Regions from separate parts of the Homo sapiens genome. Here region 1 is linked to region 2. Evidence: fine-mapped expression QTL. A gene starts in region 2. The other region holds a variant in brackets. All regions are shown on one strand. Distances are from middle to middle. Region 1 overlaps SYCP1 (synaptonemal complex protein 1). Region 2 holds the start of LINC01765 (long intergenic non-protein coding RNA 1765).

Evidence for each region. PIP is the estimated chance that this variant, and not a neighbour inherited with it, causes the effect.
Region 1: its variant is the best candidate, but not a certain one, in a credible set for the expression of LINC01765 in whole blood (INTERVAL, PIP 0.79).

What each region holds. Positions count from the first base shown.
Region 1 is chr1:114,944,764-114,947,676 of GRCh38, forward strand. It overlaps SYCP1 (synaptonemal complex protein 1), which reads left to right. Exons shown (of 32, transcript NM_003176.4): 25 at 109-219; 26 at 1,526-1,618; 27 at 2,483-2,557. Among named protein-coding and RNA genes, the nearest start is that of TSHB, 84 kb to the right of the region's middle. The variant C/T (reference allele first, on the strand shown) is at 1,437.
Region 2 is chr1:115,098,590-115,101,511 of GRCh38, forward strand. It overlaps LINC01765 (long intergenic non-protein coding RNA 1765), which reads left to right and starts at 1,058. Exons shown (of 2, transcript XR_947722.3): 1 at 1,058-1,162. RefSeq lists an enhancer at 1,109-1,168.

The DNA.
Region 1 (2,913 bases), 150 kb before region 2:
CCTGGTGTTTGAGGTTTGCTTTTATTTAAGTAGAACATATACTTTTTACACTTGTTTGTTTTTTGTGCATTTATTTTAAGAAACTTTTTTTTTTTGCTTATTTGATAGGTTGAGAAAGCAAAAGTAATAGCTGATGAAGCAGTAAAATTACAGAAAGAAATTGATAAGCGATGTCAACATAAAATAGCTGAAATGGTAGCACTTATGGAAAAACATAAGGTAATTTTTTTCTTCTTATATAATGAAAATTATTAATTGGAGCCATATTTCTGTTAAATAATGGTGAAATCAAGATAGTATTCTTATTTGTCAGAGAAGATTATTGTCTATGCAACAGTGACTGTCTATAGCTAGAATACCCTTGATGCCCATTTCTTCAAGTTCAGATCTTAACCATACAAAGTTGAGCCTGTGTGTCACATCCTTGAGGAAATCTCTCTTTGTTATCTGTGATGAATGGAAGTAATCACTCTTTTTCTGGATTCTGCTAATAGTCTCTTATAGCACTTTCTACCTTATATATTTTTAAGTACATAACCAGGATAAGTATCTCATTGATATCTAACATATAATAGGCTAAATCAATTTTTATCAAAGGAATAAATAGATGAAATACTTAGTGTTTGATGTGTTTTTGTCTTATATTTTTAATTGTTGTTTTAGAGTATCCATTTGTTAAGGAATTAAGCCTCATTCCCCTTAAGATTTGGAGAAGAGGTAGGGTATACCTACCTATTCAATTAAAAAAAAAAGCTGCTGGAATACGAGATTATTATGAGGGAAGTGGTGAGGATTTAAAAAATAATTTAAATAACATTGTGAACTCATAGATTTGAACACATTTGGTATGTTTCAATCCAGTGCAGCATCTGTCCTTATTGATAACTCACATTTTCCCACCTTTGGCTAGCAGGAGCCTCTTTAAGCTGTGTGGCAAGTCCTTTTGACTTAACTGTAATTTTCTCTGATAACTTTCTTTGAGTTATGACAAAATGTTTAAGGCTTCTTTTTTTGATGTAATAATTTTTTTATTATACTTTAAGTTCTAGGGTACATGTGCACAACATGCAGGTTTGTCACATATGTATACATGTGCCATGTTGGTGTGCTGCACCCATTAACTCATCATTTACATTAGGTATATCTCCTAATGCTAGTTTAAGGCTTGTATTTCCTGTCCCAGATTTGAAATCAGTCAGTTTTGTAGAAGCCCTGGTGTTTCTGGCAAATTTTTAAATGTTAAAATTCAATGTTTCCAAAGATAAAAGAATTATCTTTTGCTCTTTGGTTATTTCCAAGACTGTTGTGTGTTTCACTATTGAGGTTGTTTGAATGAAAAAATATAATTGAAACATTAAAAATATATACCCATATATATTACTGAATTTATAAACATAAGTTTCTGCAAAATTAAATACTAAATAATTAATTAAATA[C/T]TAAATTAAATATTAAAATATGTTAGGATACCAATCTTATAATCTATTCAGTTTTAATATATCTAAAATGTCTTCTTTGTTTAATATAGCACCAATATGATAAGATCATTGAAGAAAGAGACTCAGAATTAGGACTTTATAAGAGCAAAGAACAAGAACAGTCATCACTGAGAGCATCTTTGGTGAGATACAGAAAAAATTGCAGTAACGGCCAGTTTTCATAATGTCAGCAGTGACTGGTGGTAAAGAATAATATTAAGTAAAACTAATTTTTGAGCTATAGAATCAGAGTCTTAACTCTGAAAGGGATCTTATAGATCTTCTAGTTACATGTTTTTTTCTAATTTAGTTTTTGAAATAGTGGAACAAACTATTTTTTCAAGTGAAATTTTATAAACTCCAGTAAACAAATAAGTTTGGACCTCTGATTGAAATTGGGAGAGGAGGGTGGGATAAACTGGGAGAGAACGAGGAGAGATATACTTTGTGTTGAAGTTTTCTTTAAAGAAAACTACAAAAAACTTGATTTTGTTTTGTTTTGTTTTGTTTTTGTTTTTTGAGTTGGAGTCTTTCTGTGTCCCCCAGGCTGGAGTGCACTGGCATGATCTTGGCTCACTGCAACCTCCACCTCCCGGGTTCAAGCAGTTCTCTGGCCTCAGCCTCCTGAGTAGCTGGGACTACAGGTGTGCATCACCACACCCGGCTAATTTTTGTATTAATATTTTTAGTAGAGACGGGGTTTCACCATGTTGGCCAGGCTTTCCTCAAACTCCTGACCTCGAGTGATATGCCTGCCTCTGCCTCCCAGGGAAGTGCTGGGATTACAGGCATGAGCCACTGCACCCAGCCCAAAAACTTGTTTAAATGAGGTTTTTAGCTATGTTAAGCTAGCAGCCTTTATATCAGTTGACTTTAAAAGTATCTACATTTTATGAGTGAATTTATTTCTCTACAATATTAAATTTACTCAGAGCACTAGTTTATATTTTCATTGTCTTGAGAAATACATGGAAGCTCTTCTAAACTTCATGTTTCTTTTTCTTTAGGAGATTGAACTATCCAATCTCAAAGCTGAACTTTTGTCTGTTAAGAAGCAACTTGAAATAGAAAGAGAAGAGAAGGTAGGTTTTTTGGCATTATAGATAAAATGATTACAAGGTTTAGGGGCAACTTTGCATTTTTAGAATTATGTCATATTATAAAATAATTTGATAAATTTTAATAACGGGATGAGAAAATAATTTTCCCCCAGAAGCTTTTTTCTAGAAACATTTAGAATATTTCCTAATGTAAATGCAAAACACACGTAAATATAAGTGTACTTTTAAGAAAAGAACACTTTTGTGGCTCATGTCTGTAATCCCAGCACTTTGGGAGGCCGAGGCGGGCGGATCATGAGGTCAGGAGATCGAGACCATCCTGGCTAACACGGTGAAACCCTGTCTCTACTAAAAATACAAAAAATTAGCCGGGTGCG
Region 2 (2,922 bases):
GAAACAAGGAAAATAAGCAAGGGTGGAGTTGTAGTACCATTTTGTATTATATGTCTCATAACCCTAGTATCTGAACTCTCTGTGATCAGACTTTGCTGCCTGTGGACTTTTCTACGTATTGATTTTAGTGTCTTGTTCCTTGTGTATTATGTGATTTTTTTAAAGCTGTAAACTGCTTACTTTCCTTGGAAATTTGTGGGAATTCTTTGAGTCCTTAGTTGAGATTTTATTCCTCCAGAGAGGATTTTCTTTGCCTTCTGCAAATCATCTCAAGGCAGTACCATAGTGTTAATTCAGACAACAAATCCATTTGAAGGCTGGCTTGTGGTGACAAGGTCTCAGGGGAGATTTTCCCCACTCCAACACCAAGTCCAAAACGTATACATTTCTTTGTCGTCTTTTGCATGATGGGTTTATTTCTTGTCTACTCTTCCCTTGAGGGTGTATCCTTTGGGAGGAGGTACCAGGTTTGGGTGAGGTCTCCTAATACACTGTCTATATTAATGGCATTTTAGGCTTTACTTCACAAACCCCAAGCGGTTGCAGCTGTCGAAACCGAAACCCAGGGCAAAAGGTGGCTTTGGTGCCTGCTTACTTCGAGTTCTTGCTTTCACTTCATTTTGGCCTTTGTAGATTCTCTTCCTTTTGTGCTAGCTCAACGATGTGGTTTTATTTTTACATTCTTACATATTTTATCCAGGGTCTTAGTTTCAGTCGAGAAGGTAGTTCAGGATATCAAATCTGCCCTACTGCTAGAAAAGGAAGCCCGGTGTGCCTGCTATCGTAACTTTGGTTTTGATAAGCAAACACGAGCAGTTTTTGACTGCTGGGTTTACAGCATAGGAACCCTGTTGCTATGCAGCTGTTGTTGGAAAATAGTCTGTGGGCTCAGAGTTTCTAAACCAACCGTCTATTGGATGCCCAGAGAAGGAAGGAAAGCGAGGGCCCTGGCTTGCTGATTACAAACCATCTCCATGGTCACAGGTTGCTGGGTGCTCCTTTTACGATGTTTTCCCAGCAGCATGCAGGCAGCAGTAGCTTCCTTTGATCATTTTTCAGTTTCTGTTATTTGCTAGTGAGAGAAAGTTTATACCTGCTTGTGGGGACATGAGTGAAGAAAGAGAGGGGACTTTGAAACAAGAGAAGAGAGCAAACTCAAAAGGTAACTGTTTGTTTTCATAGGACCCTATGGGAACAACTAGCCCATTTTTGTTTTCACTCGTGCAGCCAGTTGGGGGAAGGAGAGGAACATAACTCATCCAGGTCTGAGGTCTAAGTCTGAATATTTATTGTGCCTCACAGATGATCCCCATTTGAATCATCCAAATTAGGAAAGAGTTTAAAAAATTACTGAGTAATAGTCTGGCAGAATTTTAATGTGACTTCTCTTGTTGACTTTAAGGTTTAACAGAGGCCCCAAAGGCTGAGAGCAAAATTGTAGGTACTTAAGTACCTTTACATTCTAAAGCAAGGTGCAAGATTGTCTATATTAGTCAGACATTATATATTCATATAAGAGATTTATTATAAGGAGTTGGCTCATGTGATTATGGAGGCTGACAGTCCTGAGGTCTGCAGTCAGCAAGCTGGAGACCCAGGAGAGCTAATAGTGGGGTTCTAGTCTGAATGCTGTCAGACTCCAGACCCAAGGAGAGCTGATGTTTCAGTTCAAGTCCAAAAACAGGAAAAGATCTATGTCCCAGGTCAAGCACTCAGGAAGGAGTTCCTTTTTACTTGCAAAAGGGTCAACCCTTTTGTCCTATTCAGGCCTTCAGCTGAGCAGATGAGAGCTGCCCTTTAAGAATGGTAATCTATTTTACTTGGTCTACCAATTTACACCCTCACAGGCATACCCAGAATAATGTTTGACCAAATATTTGGGGCCCCCCTGGCCTAGTCAAGTTGACATGTAAAATTAACCATCACAGAGAACAAAAGAAATGTAAAACAGGTAGACTAAATTGAAAACATACAATGAGATGGTAAATTTATACCTAAATATATCAGTAACTTCTGTTGAAAATAATCAAGAAAAAGAGAGATTGCACAAATAACCAATGTCAGGAAAAAAAAAAGATTAATAACTCCAGATCTGCAGAGATTTAGATAATAATAGGATAATATAAACAACTGCAAATAAATTTGAAAGGTAGGTAAAATGGACTGATTCCTTTGAAAAGTAACATCAGAATGCACTCAATGAAAATTAGAAGTTTGAATAGCCTTGTAAGCATTAAAAAATTGTATATGATCTTTTCACAAAAACAAAAAAGTCCAGCCCAGATTGTCCTTCAGTGGTGTGTTCTGCCAAACGTTTAGGTATGAAGTAATTCCAATCTTATGCAAACTCTACCAGAGAGTAGAAAAAGAGGGAGCATTTAAAAAATACTAAAATTATGAGACTTGTAGCAAGATCTCGAAACCTAAACCTGAAAAAGACAGGACAGTAATGAAAAGGAAAATTATAGGTCAATTTCACTTATGAACATAGATGCAAAAATCTTCAGCAAAATAATAGTCAACAAAATAGTAATATCTCACTTATTTGTGGGATCTAAAAATGAAAACAATTGAACTCATGGACCTATAGAGTAGGAGGATAGTTACCAGAGGCTGGGAAAGGGAGTGGGGAGTTGGAGGGGAAGGTAGGAATAGTTAATAAGTACAAAAAAATATAGAAAGAATGAAGAAGACCTACTATTTGATAGTACAATAGGGTGACTATAGTCAATAATAACTTAATTGTACATTTTAAAATAAAGAGTGTAACTGGATCGTTTCTAACTCAAAGAACAAATGCTTGAGGGGATGGACACCCCCTTCTCCATGATGTGCTTATTTCACATTGCATGCCTGTATCAAAACATCTCATGTACACCATAAATATATACACCTACTATATACTCTCCCAAATTTAAAAAG